Linked DNA regions of Homo sapiens. Each later gene encodes a partner of the first gene's protein in a complex. Each region holds a gene or a part of one and is shown on either strand. Other genes may lie near its edges. The genes, in order: AMFR, UBE2G2 and VCP. A codon is read from its position in the direction of its gene.

Region 1 (7,000 bases):
CAATTGTGCTAGCCCTAATAGACTAGGAATGCCAATTTCAGAGAGGAGGACTAGAGCAAGATTGAGAAAGAAACAGAACAGAACAGGCACTGTCCTGAGTCCTGTTGAAGGTGAGAGGAGAGAGTTGTATACCCTCGGAACATTGCTTCTAGAGGTTTATAATCCCAGTGCTAGGAGGATCTTTGAGAGTAAGGGATGAAAATATAATGCATATTGTTATACTCAGTAAATTAAATGACACGGATCTCTAAATATCACCTCATGCTCATATTTGGGTTATTGGAGAATAGGACCATATAGTAATGGGATGCTTTTCTGTGCTTAGCACAGAACCCTAAGCAGAGAAGCCAAGATTGACCTTGAATTTCTCAGTGAAGTTTAACACTTCCATGAAGAAGAATGAGCAGTTTCCTACTGTGTGCATTTCAGCTTTCCTTCTCGCCCACCACGCCGATGAGCAGCCACGGTCGAGTCCTGTCCCTGTTGGTTGCCATGCTGCTTTCCTGCTGTGGACTGGCGGCCGTCTGCTCCATCACCGGCTACACCCACGGAATGCACACCTTGGCTTTCATGGCTGCAGAGGTGAGATACTGGATGCAGGACTTGCTCAGATTGTATTTCTGTCTGTTTTCAAGGAAGCTGGATGTTTGACAAGTTATTTTCACCCATGAAATGACAGGTGGATATTTGGTCTTTCATTTTAACAAGCATTTCAGTTCCTTTTTGTGTGTTGGGTACTGGTACTGAATGCTTTTGTGTGGTATTTTATGTAACTCTTTCTTTACGTAGGGTATAAAGATTTTACAAAATAATGAATAAACTGTACTCATCATTTTGAAGGAAAAATCTGGTCTATTCATGAATATTTTAAGATTTAAAAATTTTTCACTCTTTTAAACCTTTCTGAAAATACCAATTTCTGTTCAGTAGAAATAAAAATTCTCCAGCCTGGCCAATATGGTGAAACCCTGTCTCTACTAAAAATACAAAAAAAAAATTAGTTGGGCGTGGTGGCGCACGTCTGTAGTCCCACCTGCTTGGGAAGCTGAGGCAGGAGAATTGCTTGAACCCGGGAGGCGGAGGTTGCAGTGAGCAGACATTGCGCCACTGCACTCCAGCCTGGGTGACAGAGCGAGACTCCATCTCAAAAAAAAAAAGAAATAAAAATTGTTTGTATGTCCTTATATTTAATGGCTATATTTGCCTTTTCTTCAGGCCAAAGGCAAAATACTTTTATCTTACCCATAATTAGTATTATTAATTAAAAAATGAGATATTAGATAAACTGAAGCTAATTGGCTAATATCAAAACACTACATTTGAACTACTCATTGGGAATTTGGTAGAGCAGAGTTAAAGTTTATTTCTGTTTGATAGCATTCATTTTTGAGTACATTTAGTAGTGTAAGTAAAATTAGAAAAGAAACATTTAAATACATAATGTTAATTATCATATTATAATATTGTAATTAAAATACAATAGTCCTAATATAAATAATAAGATATGTAATCTTAGGTGAATACTTCTGTATATGAAAAATATACAACCGTATTTCGTCTTGACAGAAAATCTGTTGAAAAATCCATTTACACTGACTTATTTGCTTTAGATTTATTGCAAAGTTAGAATGATACTTATGTTTGCCTTTTTTTGATTCTCTAACTTTCAACTAATATAATATTATCCAAACTTTGAAAAGGGTATACCTAAAAATAAGCACATTTAACTTAGGCCCGTCAGCTCATACTATAGTATATACTTTTATTTTAGCTTGTTACTGTTTATTCTTTTAAGATAATTTATCATATTACAGATTTGATATTTTAAACTAAATCATTTCTTACATTCATAGTGTTTCTCTCTCCTGTAAAATATTTTTCACTTACAAATGGGAATTTAATCTAAAACATAAATAATGTAATAGTTTTATTCTACTAGATTAAGAGGACTTTTTTTCTTAATGAAAAATATCTTTTTTTTTTTTTTTTTTTTGAGACAAGGTGTCACTCTGTTGCCCGGGCTGGAGTGCAGTTGCTTACTGCAACTTCCACCTTGTGGGCTCAAGTGATCCTCTCATTTCCTTAGTAGCTGGGACCACAGGCATGAACCACCATGCCTGGCTAATTTTTGATTTTTTTGTAGAGATGGGGTTTTGCCATGTTACCAGGCTGGTCTTGAACTCCTGAGATCAAGCAGTCGGCCTGCCTCGACCTCCCAAAGTGCTGGGATTACAGGTGTGAGCCACTGTACCTGGCCGTCAATTTCTGTAATAAAAAAAATACCCTTCAAGACCAGCCTAGCCAACATAGCAAGACCTTGTCTCTACAAAAAAAAAAAAAAAAGCCATGAGAGACTTATTTTGTCCCTCTCCTCTCCTCCCCTCTCCTCTCTCCTCTCCTCTCTCCTCTCCTCTCTCCCCTCTCCCCCCTCCCCTCCCCCCTCTCCCCCTCTCCCCCCTCTCCCCCCTCCCCCTCCTCTCTCTCCCCTCTCCTCCCCTCCCCCCTCCCCTCTCCCCTCTCCCCTTCCACTTCTTCCCCTTCCCCTTCCCTTCTGACAGGGTCTGGGGTCTGGCTCTCTCACCCAGGCTGGAGTGCTGTGGTGCGATCTCTGCTTACTGCAGCCTCCACCTCCCAGGTTCAATCCATCCTTCCACCTCTGCCTCCCAAGTAGCTGGGACTACTGGCACGTGCCACCATGCCCACCTAATTTTTGTATTTTTTGTAGAGATGGGGTTTCACCATGTTGCCCAGGCTGGTTTTGAACTCCTAAGCTTGAGCAATCCTCCTGCCTCGGTCTCCCAAAGTGCTGGGATTAAAGGTGTGATGTGGCTGGCCTTATTTTGCTTTTGATTGCTTTCGTTCTTTTTTCTGCTGGTGGACAAAGGGAGTGCACAAAGCACTAGGGAGAGAGCAGGTCCTCGTGTCTAGGATAGCAGTACCTGAACTATACTTGGAGTTACAGCATCACCCTTCTAAGTAATCAGTGATAGTGACTTAATGCTGTGTGAAATAGAATTGATGGTCAGACTACCAGGGTAAACCTCAAGATTGTAGGGGGATTCCTGGGGGGTAGGTGTAATTGGTTGTCACCTATTAACAGGACTTTTCCTCAATAAAAGTTGGGTTTCTAGGTCATAAAAATATTTTACAGAAATTTGAAGCAGAGAAAATAAAATAATGGGTAAACTTGAACAATCTGCTTTTTAATTGAACTGAGAAATGTTTGTCTTTTATCATTTTATAAAAAGTTTGGCCTGAGCAATGCTACATTTTACTAAAAAGAAAATATCCTTTTTTATAGTCTCTTCTTGTGACAGTGAGGACTGCTCATGTGATTTTACGGTGAGTGAAATTGGGGAGGGAGGTGATGGAGGCCTACTCATACAGTTGATTTTAAGATGTAGCAGGTATGAAATATATAAAAATCGGACTAAATTACAACATGGTTAAACCAAATTCAGTAGTAACAGTAAATTACTAAGGTGTTTTCTCTCTTCATTACAGATACGTAATTCACCTCTGGGACCTCAACCACGAAGGGACGTGGGAAGGAAAGGGGACGTATGTCTATTACACAGACTTTGTCATGGAGCTCACTCTCCTGTCCCTGGACCTCATGCACCATATTCACATGTTGGTAAGTTTCCTCAGAAGGAGCTCTAACAGAGGGCAAGCCTTTCAGAATCAGGAACAGTAATGGTTTCTTCATTAAAAAATGAAACTTTAGAAATAAGATGTGGATGGACTACTTAAAGACTAAAAATGAATGTGGCTGCAAACCCTCCCTCTTTTTGCCACTGGGTGTAAGGCAGTGCCATGGAACTGCTTTGGCTGGTGCCTAACTCAGGAGGTGTTTGCTGTCCTGGGAGACTTAGTTAACTCTGCTGACCAAGTCAATAGATTATTCTTTTAGCATGAAATTAAGGAGCTGCCTTTCCCCATAGTTTCTATGGCTTTAAATATTTAGCAGGTACTTTGTAGGTGGTAATGGGAATTCCTGCAGTGTTAGCTACTTCACAGATTTATACATTTTCCATCTTTGTAATTAAAAAAAGTCTTTACACTTAATTCCTACATTCCTACTACCATCATTGTTTACATTTTACTTTGGTATGTTAGACGTTACGGTGTCGTAGATCTGCTTCATTGGTTGGCCCTTCAGTGATCTAATAATGGTGAGAATTAAAATAGTTGGTGGGCAATTTATTTAAATTATAAGCCTAGCAAGTAGCATTTTAAAATTATTGGGCTAGACGTGGCACATTTCTAAGTCTACTTTTTGAAAGAAACTTTGAAAACATACTTTTTAAAGAAAGTATGTAATTCTTTTTTTTAAAAAAGAGCCTCGGCTGGACGCGGTGGCTCATGCCTGTAATCCCAGCTACTGGGGAGGCTGAGGCAGAGAATTGCTTGAACCTGGGAAATGGAGGTTGCAGTGAGCTGAGATCGCGCCACTGTACTCTATCCTGGGCGACAGGGTGACACTCCGTCCCAAAAAAAAAAAAAAAGCCTCCCTCCCCCCTCAAAAAGGGGACAAACAAATGGCCAAAGATAACTGTTAAGATTTTTTATCTTCTTTTTTTAAATTTTTTTTCCTCATGCTTGTATTTTTTGTATTTAACTGCTTCTTTTTATGTATTTTTTGTATTTATGTATTTTGTATTTTTATGTATTTTGTATTTAACTGATTCTTTTTATGTATTTGAGTACATACATTCATAAATTGAGATCATATTTTAGACATATAGTTCTGTTCTTTAAAAACTAATGTATTATGAACATTTTCCTGTGCTAACATCAGTTCTTCTAAGCCATTTTAATACTTTCAGGATAAAAATATCATCAGATAGCTGTACCATGATTTAATAAACCGCATCCCACAATGGGTTATTTAGATTATATTTGGTTGTTTGCTATTTCACATTTTACATATTTTTTATCATGTATTAGTTTGATAAAGATAGTTATATCTTGCTTTTTTCATTTATCTAGTACTATCTTCCCATAATTGACCTTCAGAACTGTTATATATACAAATATAATAGTAATATGTAGTTATATAGTATAATAAGTGAAATTAATGACTATATAATTTTACATTACATGAGTTTACAACCTAACTGTTCTTCTGGGCATTTTGTTCATTTTCATATTTTCTGTTTTATAATTGCATGGATAGACATCTTTTTGCATAAAGCTTTTCCATTTCTGATGAGTTTCTCAGGAAAGATGACTGGCATTGGAGCACCTAGGCTGACGAGGATGTGCATTGTTTAGAGTAATGAGATAAATCTGTGTATTTCCTTTCTGAAAGACATTGCAGTTCACCATCACCAACAGTGAAGAGCTTCCGCTGCATACTGCGCCTTCATCACTAGCAAGTTCACGTTCGCTTTTACCGTGTGTTTTATTCTCTTTCTCTCTAAGTTATTTGGCAACATCTGGTTATCCATGGCCAGCCTGGTCATCTTTATGCAGCTGCGTTACCTGTTTCATGAGGTGCAACGTCGAATTCGTCGGCACAAGAACTATCTACGTGTGGTTGGAAACATGGAGGCCAGGTAAGGAAGCACAAGTTGATGTTGCCTAAGTTTACTCATTTTAGTTTTTTAATAACAGCAGATCCCAGAGTATGTCAGAATGTATGTTTGTAAACTGCTAATAGAGTGGTGGAGAGGAAAGGCTCTGGAGTCAGACTGCCCGGGTGTGAATCCCCACTTAGGTGCTGTGTGATTTGGGGCAATTTACTTCACCTCTAAATTAGGGATGAAAACAGAACCTTCTGCCTGAACTATTGGGAGAATTTGGTGAGATAATTCATGTACTTAGAATGGTACTGGGCAGATAGTGCTCAGTATTAGGCTCTTATTTGTCATGATTTTATTGTCATTATTATCAAATAGACACTTCATTGGGCTTCTACCCTGTTCATTTCCTGAAAGTGGGTCTCAGTTCTTTGCACATGCATGTTTACACACACATACTTAACCTCATTGAAGGAGGCACTTTTTTGCCAAGCTGGGGCTAAGCCACGCCTGGAGGTGCAAGATTAATGGGTATCCTCTTTGCACCCAGGGGGACAGCTTGGATCTCTTCTTTGTGGCCAGGGACACAGATTGGATCTCTGGGGGCCTTACTCCTCTGATTTGTCCGGATATGGTCTCCGAGGTCTTCACTAACAGCAGCCATTATTATTATTATTATTATTATTTTGGAGATGGAGTCTCACTCACCCAGGCTGGAGTGCAGTGGCACAATCTCAGCTCACTGCAACCTCCGCCTCCCAGGTTGAAGTAAGTCTCCTGCCTCAGCCTCCTGAGTAGCTGGGATTGCAGGCGCCTGTCACCACGCCCGGCTAATTTTTGCATTTTTAGTAGAGACGGGGTTTCACCATGTTGGTTAGGCTGGTCTTGAACTCCTGACCTCATGATCCCCCTACCTCGGCCTCCGAAAGTGCTGGGATTACAGGTATAAGCCACCGCGCTCGGCCTAGCAACCATTATTTAGACAAAGTTCCTGTGCATAAGTTACTCACTTTTGAAAGGGCTTTGAAGGTAAATTATATTTTTGATTATCAAGAATGTTTTGCTGAACATGCTTTCTCTGTAACTGTGTTGTGATACAGGCGCAGTCTATCAAGTGGTGTTTAGTGTGCGTGTGGAACTGACTGAGGTTCCTGCTGGGCTTGTTTTGTTTCCACAGGTTTGCAGTTGCAACTCCAGAGGAGCTGGCTGTCAACAATGACGACTGTGCCATCTGTTGGGACTCCATGCAGGCTGCGCGGAAACTGCCCTGTGGACATCTTTTCCACAAGTAGGAGCTTTGTGAAGGGCCATGTGGGACAGGTGTTCTGTCCAGGGCGTGTGTGTGCTTTGTGTACCCAGGCTCGAGACTCATCCTAGTGGAGGAGTGGGGACATTACCTCAGCCTGGCCTTGCTGCTGGCACTGAGTGTTCTGGGAAGCTCTTGGGTATCCTTCTTTGTTCCTTAGCCTCTTCCC
Region 2 (2,926 bases), on another chromosome or scaffold:
TACTTCCTTTCTTCCTTCATATTTTACAGGCAGATGCTTTTCTTATAATCTAATTACATCTTTTCATTTGTTATATATTACAAACCATCACACTTAGAAATACTTCCAGGAAATGCTTTTTTGAAGTGTGAATTAATAAGAAATGGGGTAAATAGAAAAGAAATTTATTGCTGATTGGCCAGGTGCGGTGGTTCGTGCCTGTAATCCCAGCTCTTTGGGAGGCCAAGGCAGGTAGATCACAAGGTCAGGAAATTGAGACCATCCTGGCTAATACAGTGAAACCCCATGTCTGCTAAAATTACAAAAAATTAGCTGGGCGTGGTGGTGCACGCCTGTAGTCTCAGCTACTCAGGAGGCTGAGGCAGGAGAATCGCTTGAACCCGGGAGGCAGAGGTAGCAGTGAGCTGAAGTCCCGCCACTGCACTCCAGCCTGGGCAACAGAGCGAGACTCAGTCTCAAAAAGAAAAAAGAAATTTATTGCTGATCACAAGGACAGACAGTTTTTTCCCGACCATACTCATCAAAGATTTACGTTTGTATATTAGTAACTAGTGCATTACTAGAGCAGGTGCAGGTGAGGTCTTTAAAGTTTCAATGAAAGTTTCTTCTGGATCTACAGAAAAAATTTTTTTTTTTCAATCTAAAAACTGGAAATTCTAGGGTTTTTGTACATTTTGGATGCACTGGGAATTTATTAGCACAAAATCATTCTTTGCAACTCAAAATTCAGAAGGGACTCTACCATATCTTAGCTCAGAGCACAGAGGAGTGCCTTATCCCCACACTTGACTGGGCTGTGGAGGTGGGCATGTGGGCCCCTGGGCCCAGGCTGGGGACAGAGCCCTTGTTTTGTGACTTAGGATTTTGATGTGGTTCCCATGTTCTCTAACAGGGCCAGCTGAGCAGCACAGGCCAGGAGGCCACAGTGTAAGCAATAACAGATCTGCCACATGCAGAAGCAAATATCAGGCCTGTCGCACACGGGCGGCATTTAAATAGGAATTTCTATTTTTGAAATAAGGGATGGTCTATGAGGCATACAGTAGATTTGATGTGATCCTTTTCTCCCTCCCTTCCATAATGGATCGTGGTCTGTGTGACTGAACCCACACAGAGTGTCATGGGTGACAGTTTCTGGTTGAAGTAGCTCCACGCCTGGCTTCTGTGGACAGCAGATTCTTTTCCTTCTCACAAGGGGCTCATTTAAAATTTGGAGGCTGGGTGCTGTGGCTCACGCCTGCAATCCCAGCACTTTGGGAGACTGAGGCGGGCGGATCATGAGGTCAGGAGATCGCGACCATCCTGGCTAACAGTGAAACCCTGTCTCCACTAAAAATACAAAAAATTAGCCGGGCGTGGTGGCGGGCGCCTGTAGTCCCAGCTACTCTGAAGACTGAGGCAGGAGAATGGCGTGAACCCAGGAGGCGGAGCTTGCAGTGAGCTGAGATCACGCCACTGCACTCCAGCCTGGGCAACAGAGTGAGACTCTGTCTCAAAAAAAAAAAAAAAAAAAATGGAACGCAGGGCAAGAACTCGTATTTGGAAGGAGATGGGGGAAAGGAGCGGTATTATACCTATGTTGTATTTGCAGGCAAATGAGATGGAGCCCTCTCTGTAAAGAAGAGTCATTTGTGCAAGTAGACGGGGTCTGTGGGTGCAGGCCCTGGAGGGGCACACAATTGCCTGGAGGCTTCTGTGAGATCGGGAGAGGGAGGAGAGGCAGTCTCTTGACAAAATAAAGTATTTTTATTCATTTGTATTTATTAAATGAAAAAACAATCCCATGGTGTCCCTGTTGTGTGGTGGAACCTAATGACTGTTGAAATAAAGTTCTGTGTTTTCCCTGCCCTGCAGTGTGTGTCCCTTTGTCGTATTGTCAGAGGAGCCTGTGGCCACTGCCCCCAGGGAGCACACCAGATCATCCCAGCTGGGATTCCTCACGGTGGGGGCTTTTCTGCAGACTTGGGTTAGCTCTGGCATGTTTTCTTCTGTTTCTGATCTCCCTTCTGTCATTCTGTGGTCTTCCTCTGGAATTCTCAGGTTAGTTGGGGTCTGTGAGACGGATGTGTTCACTAACCTATAAATGACATTTTGCAGCTTTTTCAGCAGATGCCATTGTGTGAGTGGCACATTTGACCACTAGAAGCCAGCAGGCTGTTCCGACTGCGCTTCCCTCCTGCAGTTGCTTAGAAGCACAGCTCCCTGTCATCACTCCTCTGTGGTCCTCTGTGGTCACGGTTGGTTGCGATGAGACCTGCCTCTGCGTCTTGTTACTTAGCATGTCAATAAAGAGGCAGATTCCTGTGTCAGTGATTTGCTGTTTCTGTTTTGGTAGTTGGCGGTCAGCTTTCCTTTGTAATCCTGTGAGGCAGGGTCCCCAGGCTTCCCCAGGTGCTGGCGCCTCGTTCCCTGGGCTGGTTCCCAGGCTGCTCCTGGTGGGGTGCACTGGGCGAGTGCCTCAGCACAGGCCCCCAGGCATGTCTGTTCTGCCCTTTGCCCAGTGTTCTCACTAAGCATTCTTTTTAATGGGTAAGAACTCTAATGTGATACTGAGTTGGGGTCCCCAAGACCACCCAGGGCGGCGATTCTCCAGGAGGACAGAGGCCATGCAGGTCACGGTAGTCACGGCTGTGATTTCCCACAGGGAGGACACTGAGCAAAATCGGCCAAGGGAAAGGTTCCTGGGGCCGAGTCCAGGGGCACCATGCTCAGCTTTGGAGGCCTCTCCTGGGGTGGGGGTCACGCAGGATGCGCCTCACTCCCCTGCAAGCAGCTGGGACTCTGCGTGTGCGATGTTGGGGATGCCCTGCCTGGTGATGTACCCGGGGGCTGGTCACGTGAGCAGCTTCTGCCTGGGCTGCGCTACAATTCCAGACTCTCAGCAGGGATGTGAGTGTTCTGCCTAAACCACCTTGTACAAATAGCA
Region 3 (7,185 bases), on another chromosome or scaffold:
GTGAAACCCCATCTCTAGTAAAAATGCAAAATTAGCCAGGTGTGGTGGCGCATGCCTGTAATCCCAGCTACTCGGGAGGCTGAGGCAGGAGAATCACTTGAACCCGGGAGGTGGAGGTTGCAGTTAGCTGAGATCGCAGCATTGCATTCCAGCCTGGACAACAAAAGCGAAACTCCATCTCAAAAAAAAAAAAAAAAAAAAAAAAAGGGAGAGGGAGCTTGCTGAGTCTAGTAAGTGACAGCTGGAAACGGGCTAGGTAATAAGTTGGTGTCACTGTCTGGTGAATGATCCTAGCTTCTAGGAAATAACACTGAGTGTAGACCCAGTCGACTTTGATTTGGGTGAGAGGGATTTGGATTTGCCCCATGTCTCAGCATTTCTTGGTTTTGATTTTTTGAGCCAACTTTATGGAATTGTGTACTTTTGCAGATATTACTGTGAAGTTCCTTTTGACCTTGAGCCTCTTTCTGGCGGTTTGATGTCTGTTAGTGTTTTTTCCAAATATGATGGTCTTTATGCTTGGCATTCCTTTGGTACTATGGAATGCCCTGGCATCAGTAGGTTTAGCCTATAAGGAGGGTAGCACCAATGATTCTGCTTCGTTGTCCCCAGGCTTGCTTGGTAGAACTTAAGGCCTCCCTGAGCCTCAAGGGAGGTTGTCTGGCTTACTTAATTCCCTGGAAAGTTAGCTTATGCTTTACTCTATACTGTTAATCATGGTGACCATTAATACCATGTGCCAGGTATTATGTTAAGCATTTTACATTCATTATCTCCCTTAAGACAATAAGCCTCTGAGATAAGTATTATATTCCTTCTTTTATAGAGGAGGACATCAAAGTTCAGAGGTTAGGTAACTTGCCCAAGATCACAATTAAGCAGTGGCATAATTGGAATTCAGACCCAATGGGTCTGACTATAGAGTTCCTGCTCTTAACCACTCTTCTGTAAGTCTAAGACTATTTTTATTTCTCTAACAACTATTCAGCCTCCATTTCTATTATGTCTTCTTCTTAGGCCATTATTTTCTGACCCTGGGGCAGGATCACTCACTTGGGGCCTTATAGCTGGGACACTGACGCTCAAAATACCAGGAGCTGCTGGAATGGGTATTGTAATATGTATGGTAGATACTGCTCCTCGTGACCTTGGCTGCCTTTCCTTCATCTGAGCTTTCTGGTCTAGGGACAGCTTCATCTATTCACTGTTTCTTTCCTAAGTATGAGTTTTAGAGACTGGCGAGGCGCTTGGGGCAGGAGTATCTACTGACTCCATTTCCTCCTTCTAGTTCAAAAGGTGATGACCTATCAACAGCCATTCTCAAACAGAAGAACCGTCCCAATCGGTTAATTGTTGATGAAGCCATCAATGAGGACAACAGTGTGGTGTCCTTGTCCCAGGTAAGCTGTGGCCACAGACTAGTCTTTCCTTACTGCACTTACTTGAGGGATTTTCCCAGGTTTCTTTTCTCATTTTTCTTGCAGTGACTGCAGATAGAGTGGGGTTTACTGGGAATCCCAATCTCCAGGGCTGCTGCTTACTCCCCGTCAGCCCAATGACCCAAAGGCCTTAACTTTCTTTCCTCAGCCCAAGATGGATGAATTGCAGTTGTTCCGAGGTGACACAGTGTTGCTGAAAGGAAAGAAGAGACGAGAAGCTGTTTGCATCGTCCTTTCTGATGATACTTGTTCTGATGAGAAGATTCGGATGAATAGAGTTGTTCGGAATAACCTTCGTGTACGCCTAGGGGATGTCATCAGGTGTGTGTGGGGTTTTTGGCTTCACAGGGATGGGAGGCCAGAGATAGCCTGCATTACAGGCAGGACCCATGTATTACAGGCAGGACCAAGTTCTTGGCACCTGTCGATGCAGGAAGCCTCCTGGTCATGGGAAGACTTATGCTTCAGGGTTGTCTTTAGGTTTTGGTTCTGCCTCCCTGGGACTTCAAAATCCATTTCTGCAGGTCCCTTGAGACAAATTGGCGTTCCTGTAACTTTCTTGATGGCTTTATTTTTTCCTACTAGAGGTGTAATTTATCATACTTATATCCTGGCTTAGGATACCACTCGAGGGTGTGTATGTATATGCCAAATAATCTCCTCACTACTCTCACTAGTATGTCTAATTGATGGCTTGTGTTGGGGTTGGAATGAGGTGGGGGTATGGGCATGGAAGGTGAGCTGCTAGCAGGTCTTTTAAGCCCCTAAGTTAACCCGGGAGAGAGGAATAGTTGGAGCCAGACCTGGGATAGCTCTCAATGTGAGTGATTTTGCTTGTTCTTGCATAATTTTAGGCAAGAGGTTACCCCATCTTGGAGTCATCTCTAGCCACTCCTACCCAACCAACCATCACCTGGCCAGGATCATCTCAGGCTTTTGATTCTTTTGAATGGAGTCTAAGTTTCATGTAGCTTTCTTCTTGGGAGTGCTTAGTCACTTCCTCAAGGTGTTCTGACCACCTGGCTGAGATAATTTTGTTTTTTTCACTTCTGTTTCACTGACCCTGACAATTGTTAGCTTAAGACCTTCCCTTGTAATATTGGGTCACCAGTATTAGCTAGAAGGGGATCATCCTTGGATATCTCCCTGAAGACCCTGCATGTCTTTGTGGGGTTTCTAAATGTGTGGCTCTTGATTTTGGCTCACTGATTAGGAGTGAGTGGGGCTGTTCCTTCGCCCTCACTTCCACCCTGTTCTCCTTCCTCTCTTCGCCTAAAGCCATCCTGCCTTTTCTTTTTCACTTACTATCAGCTATCTGTGCCAGGCCCTTTTGGACACCCAGTGCTTGGGCCCGAAGTGTGGTTGGTAATATGGAGTCTGCTTGTCATCCTCAGCATCCAGCCATGCCCTGATGTGAAGTACGGCAAACGTATCCATGTGCTGCCCATTGATGACACAGTGGAAGGCATTACTGGTAATCTCTTCGAGGTATACCTTAAGCCGTACTTCCTGGAAGCGTATCGACCCATCCGGAAAGGTGAGAGCTAATTCTGAGCTTAAGGATTATTGACTGTAGGGAATAAACCTTGGAACATCTTTATCTCATTTTCTTTTTCTTTTTTTTTTTTTAAATCTTTTATGCTTTTCCCCTGTATTTATTTATTCATTTTTTAAGAGATGGGGTCAGCTGGGCACCGTGGCTCACACCTATAATCCCAGCAATTTGGGAGGCTGAGGCGGGTGGATCACTTGAGGCCAGGAGTTTGAGACCAGCCTGGCCAACATGGCGAAACCCCATCGTGGGCACCTGTAATCCCAGCTACCTGGGAGGCTGAGGCATGAGAATTGCTTGAACCCAAGAGGTGGAGGTTGCAGTGAGCCAAGATTGGGCCACAGTACTGCAGCCTGGGTGACAGAGCAAGACTCTGTCTCAAAAAAAAAAAAAAAGAGACAGGGTCTCACTATGATGCCCAGGCTGGTCTCAAACTGCTGGGCTCAAGTGATCCATCTGCCATGGCCTCCCAAAGTGCTGGGATTACAGGCATGAGCCATCAAGCCTAGTCTCATTTTCTTTTCTTTTTTTTTTGAGACAGAGTGTCGCGCTGTCCCCCAGGCTGGAGCGCAGTGGTGCAATCTCGGCTCACTGCAACCTCCGCCTCCTGGGTTCAAGCAATTCTCCTGCCTCAGCCTCCCAAGTAGCTGGGATTACAGGCGTCTGCCACCACGCCCGGCTAATTTTTGTGTTTTTAGTAGAGACGGGGTTTCACCATGTTGGTCAGGCTCGTCTCGAACTCTTGACCTCAGGTGAGCCACTGTGCCCGGCCGCTAGACTCATTTTCATATATTTGTATACACACACATGCAAACCCTGCACACATATTCATATGTCTTACCCTCTTTTTTTCCTCCATCCTTCCTTTGCTCCATCTCTCCCCTTCTCTGTTCCAGGAGAGTAAGCTATCTTTATGGATCTCTGAAGGAGAAAGTGGTCCATTTTGGCTGGGTCAGGGTCCAGAGTGCACAGTTCTACCATTGGTGGTTGTAGTGAAAACTTGGGCTACCTATATGGCAGAAGTCAGAACTTGATGGGCTTCTGACATGTCAGGTTTTGTTCACTGACCTCTTGTCAGAGGGACTCTTCACAGTTTACCTTTCTCATCTTGCCTGCTGCTTATTAAGACAGGTGGGGTGGAGTTGGGGAGAGGTAGGGCAATATCTAATGAAGGGCACTATCTAATGAGCTTGGCATTTTGACCCCAGGGTCTGATGAGTTCTCACTTTGTCTTGTAGTTGACACCTCTAACTGTGCTTGTACTGTTTGCTCTCGCAGGAGACATTTTTCTTGTCCGTGGTGGGATGCGTGCTGTGGAGTTCAAAGTGGTGGAAACAGATCCTAGCCCTTATTGCATTGTTGCTCCAGACACAGTGATCCACTGCGAAGGGGAGCCTATCAAACGAGAGGTGAGTTTTCTCCCTGATTCCAGTATCCGATTTTATGATTACTCAGTGTGGCATCATGTGGTAACTGTCAGGACTGGGTGCTCGGCCGGCTGCGGTGGCTGACACCTGTAATCCCAGTACTTTGGGAGACTGAGATGGGCAGATCACTTGAGGTCAGGTGTTCAAGACCAGCCTGGGCAACATGGTGAAATCCCATCTCTACTAAAAATACAAAAATTAGCCAGGCATGGTGGTACACATCTGTAATCCCAGCTACTCAGGAGGCTGAGGCAGGAGAATCGGTTGAACCCAGGAGTCGGAGGTTGCAGTGAGCTGAGATTGTGCCACTGCACTCCAGCCTGGGTGACAGAGTGAGACTCTGTCTCAAAAAAGAAAAAGACTGGGTGTTCTTTGGAGAACTAACCATCTTTCAGGGATGAGAAACCTGCCAGCTATTCATTTCTGGGCCTAATTGTTTCTTGGATTTACCTAATGCCAGGAATTTCAAAAAACTAGACTGAACCCAAAATATATAAGTGATTGAAATCATTTTTGAAGTAAAGCTGATGGTGGCTTCAGGCCTCTGCCCATTCCCAGGGTTTCCAGCTTCAGATTTTAGAGACCCCTTCTCAGTAAGACTACGAGTAATGTGAGAGGCAAGGACTGTGCTAGAAATCTTTGCCTTGGGATTTTTGTAGTTGTTCTTTGAGGCCGGATCCCTTTAGAGGAGAATCTTTTTTAAATTTAATTTAATTTTTAATGAGATGGAGTCTTGCTGTATTGCCCAGGAACTCCTGGACTCAAGCATTCCTCCCACCTCTGCCTCCCAAAGTGCTGGGATTACAGATGTGAGCCACCATGCCGGGTTGAGAATCTTCTTATACGGTAGGTTTTTGCACACTAGGTAGTGGAATGATTTAGAGAAACTCAGCTTTTGCTGATATAATATTCTTGCCTTCTCCTTTCTTTATCTCCTCCATATTCAGGATGAGGAAGAGTCCTTGAATGAAGTAGGGTATGATGACATTGGTGGCTGCAGGAAGCAGCTAGCTCAGATAAAGGAGATGGTGGAACTGCCCCTGAGACATCCTGCCCTCTTTAAGGCAATTGGTGTGAAGGTGAGCATCCTGGGCTCTGGAATCAAGTCTAAAGTGGTGCCAATGTCTAATCCTGTCCCAATGTCTAATCCTGGGACTGTTTTCATGCATGGCTTTCATTATTGCCTTGGATTAGAGGGGCAATAACGTATCCTTTAGTTTACCTAAGGCTCTAAATTCATTAGAGCTGATGGTCTAAAACCAGAGTAGGCTAATCAAATTGTCTGTTGTGTGCGTGTGCGCACAAAACACACACACATATATATATGGGTTTTTCTTTACAACTCTTAGAATATAAAAGCCATTCTTGTATCAATGGACCCTGTAAAAACAAATCTCACCATAGTTTGCCAGCCTGTCTAGAGCAATGTCACCCAGTAGAAGTAAGGAAGTTAAGGAAATTTTCAGAGTGTTAAAGGGTTCTGAGTCTAAAACATTTGAGAACTATTGGTCTAGAGTGTAGCTTCTCAATCTTTTCCTAGTGGGAAAGTGTTTCCATGGAACACACTGAAGATGAAGTTACTCATTTTCCTAGTGGGTGGCACACAAATAATTTCATTTTCTATGTGGACAGTTTACATGTTCTGCTTGTGGATGAGGCCATAGAAAGGGTAGTGTTGAAGAAGAAAAATGATGATTGTAAGGAACAGCATTCCAGTGTGATAAATTCTGGAGGGCATGATTACTGGAGTGAGTGATCCTCTGGCAATGAAGAAAATAGACCCTGCTCTCTTAAATGGCTTAGCTAGTCTTTGGCCCTTGGTCTGTCTAAAATTGAGCCCTTAGTGTAATGGCCTCTTGCCTTTCCCTAGTCATGTATCTTCAAACGCATTTGGACTACAGTTTCTCTGCCCTTAGTCTCCTATGCAAGTTGCAATCATAAATGTTGCCCACTTTCTAGCAGTATTTTCCCTGCTAGTAATAGAAATGAGTGTGGCCTAAAGTAATTGTCTTCTTAGCATTTACTGCGGAGGGCTTATTCTTAATATTGTCAGGGTTGAAGCCTGATTCTCACCCTCTCTGGAGCGCTAGTCAAGCCATTTTAGGGTTTGGGAGAAGGTGGGAACCTAATCACACTCTGCATTGGTCCACAGCCTCCTAGAGGAATCCTGCTTTACGGACCTCCTGGAACAGGAAAGACCCTGATTGCTCGAGCTGTAGCAAATGAGACTGGAGCCTTCTTCTTCTTGATCAATGGTGAGATATTTGGTTCATCTTATGTCTAGCTAGACCCAATTTTGAACTGGGCTTATGAGCTGGAGCACTTATGAACACATCCTTTTTGCACCCATGCCCTCCTTCATGTTTATAGCATATTTCTTATGCTGGGGTATGTTACAGACAGAAGAGCAATAAAGGGAAGATATTTTACATTGGTGCTCCCTGTCCTGCCCCCTTTGAGAAAGATTGTGGACAGACTGCAGAGCGGGAGCAAGCTAGAATGAGAAATCAAAGGGTGAATGGTTAGTGATTTGAGAGGGTTTGGGGCAAATGAACTTTGATCACTGGCTCTTGGAGAATGCTGTTTAGTGGTGTGCCATCTGGTGTGCCATCTCTCTTGCTCTAGCCAGAGGTCCTAGAGCATTTGCTGTCACCTTTACAGTTCAACTGTGAGAAGAGTATAGTGAGTCCCTGGGCTTCTCTCCAGCCTTGCCTGGTGGCTGTCCTGGGATAATGGCTGGTAGAGGATGTGAGAAGTAGGCAGAGGT

What was found.
Region 2: the proteins of AMFR (region 1) and UBE2G2 are in contact, whole or in part, in an NMR structure (PDB 2LXP), measured with the Homo sapiens proteins. Residues at the interface, in NP_001135.3 of Homo sapiens: Ser574, Ala575, Arg578, Gln579, Met581, Leu582, Arg585, Lys586, Leu589, Leu590, Ala593, Arg594, Arg596, Phe597, Leu598, Lys600; in NP_003334.2 of Homo sapiens: Tyr13, Leu16, Thr17, Pro20, Gly23, Ile24, Val25, Ala26, Gly27, Pro28, Met29, Asn30, Glu31, Glu38, Leu40, Met42, Glu45, Glu50, Phe51, Val53, Val159, Gln160, Leu163, Gly164, Leu165.
Region 3: the proteins of AMFR (region 1) and VCP are in contact, whole or in part, in a crystal structure (PDB 3TIW), measured with the Homo sapiens proteins. Residues at the interface, in NP_001135.3 of Homo sapiens: Arg625, Arg626, Arg627, Met628, Leu629, Ala630, Ala631, Ala632, Ala633, Glu634, Arg635, Arg636, Leu637; in NP_009057.1 of Homo sapiens: Asn33 (codon at 1,368), Asp35 (codon at 1,374), Ser37 (codon at 1,380), Val38 (codon at 1,383), Phe52 (codon at 1,612), Arg53 (codon at 1,615), Gly54 (codon at 1,618), Asp55 (codon at 1,621), Thr56 (codon at 1,624), Ile70 (codon at 1,666), Leu72 (codon at 1,672), Pro106 (codon at 2,847), Val108 (codon at 2,853), Lys109 (codon at 2,856), Tyr110 (codon at 2,859), Glu141 (codon at 2,952), Ala142 (codon at 2,955), Tyr143 (codon at 2,958), Arg144 (codon at 2,961), Ile175 (codon at 4,347).

Annotation. Positions count from the first base shown.
Region 1 is NC_000016.10:56,401,546-56,408,545, reverse strand, and holds part of AMFR (E3 ubiquitin-protein ligase AMFR), read left to right. Parts: intron 1-429; coding exon 430-582; intron 583-3,301; coding exon 3,302-3,342; intron 3,343-3,504; coding exon 3,505-3,637; intron 3,638-5,427; coding exon 5,428-5,561; intron 5,562-6,702; coding exon 6,703-6,813; intron 6,814-7,000. UniProt on the Homo sapiens protein: E3 ubiquitin-protein ligase that mediates the polyubiquitination of lysine and cysteine residues on target proteins, such as CD3D, CYP3A4, CFTR, INSIG1, SOAT2/ACAT2 and APOB for proteasomal degradation.
Region 2 is NC_000021.9:44,767,967-44,770,892, reverse strand, and holds the end of UBE2G2 (ubiquitin-conjugating enzyme E2 G2), read left to right. Parts: 3' UTR 1-2,313; downstream 2,314-2,926. UniProt on the Homo sapiens protein: Accepts ubiquitin from the E1 complex and catalyzes its covalent attachment to other proteins. In vitro catalyzes 'Lys-48'-linked polyubiquitination. Involved in endoplasmic reticulum-associated degradation (ERAD).
Region 3 is NC_000009.12:35,062,466-35,069,650, reverse strand, and holds part of VCP (transitional endoplasmic reticulum ATPase), read left to right. Parts: intron 1-1,288; coding exon 1,289-1,400; intron 1,401-1,587; coding exon 1,588-1,760; intron 1,761-2,833; coding exon 2,834-2,976; intron 2,977-4,269; coding exon 4,270-4,400; intron 4,401-5,365; coding exon 5,366-5,497; intron 5,498-6,570; coding exon 6,571-6,673; intron 6,674-7,185. UniProt on the Homo sapiens protein: Necessary for the fragmentation of Golgi stacks during mitosis and for their reassembly after mitosis. Involved in the formation of the transitional endoplasmic reticulum (tER).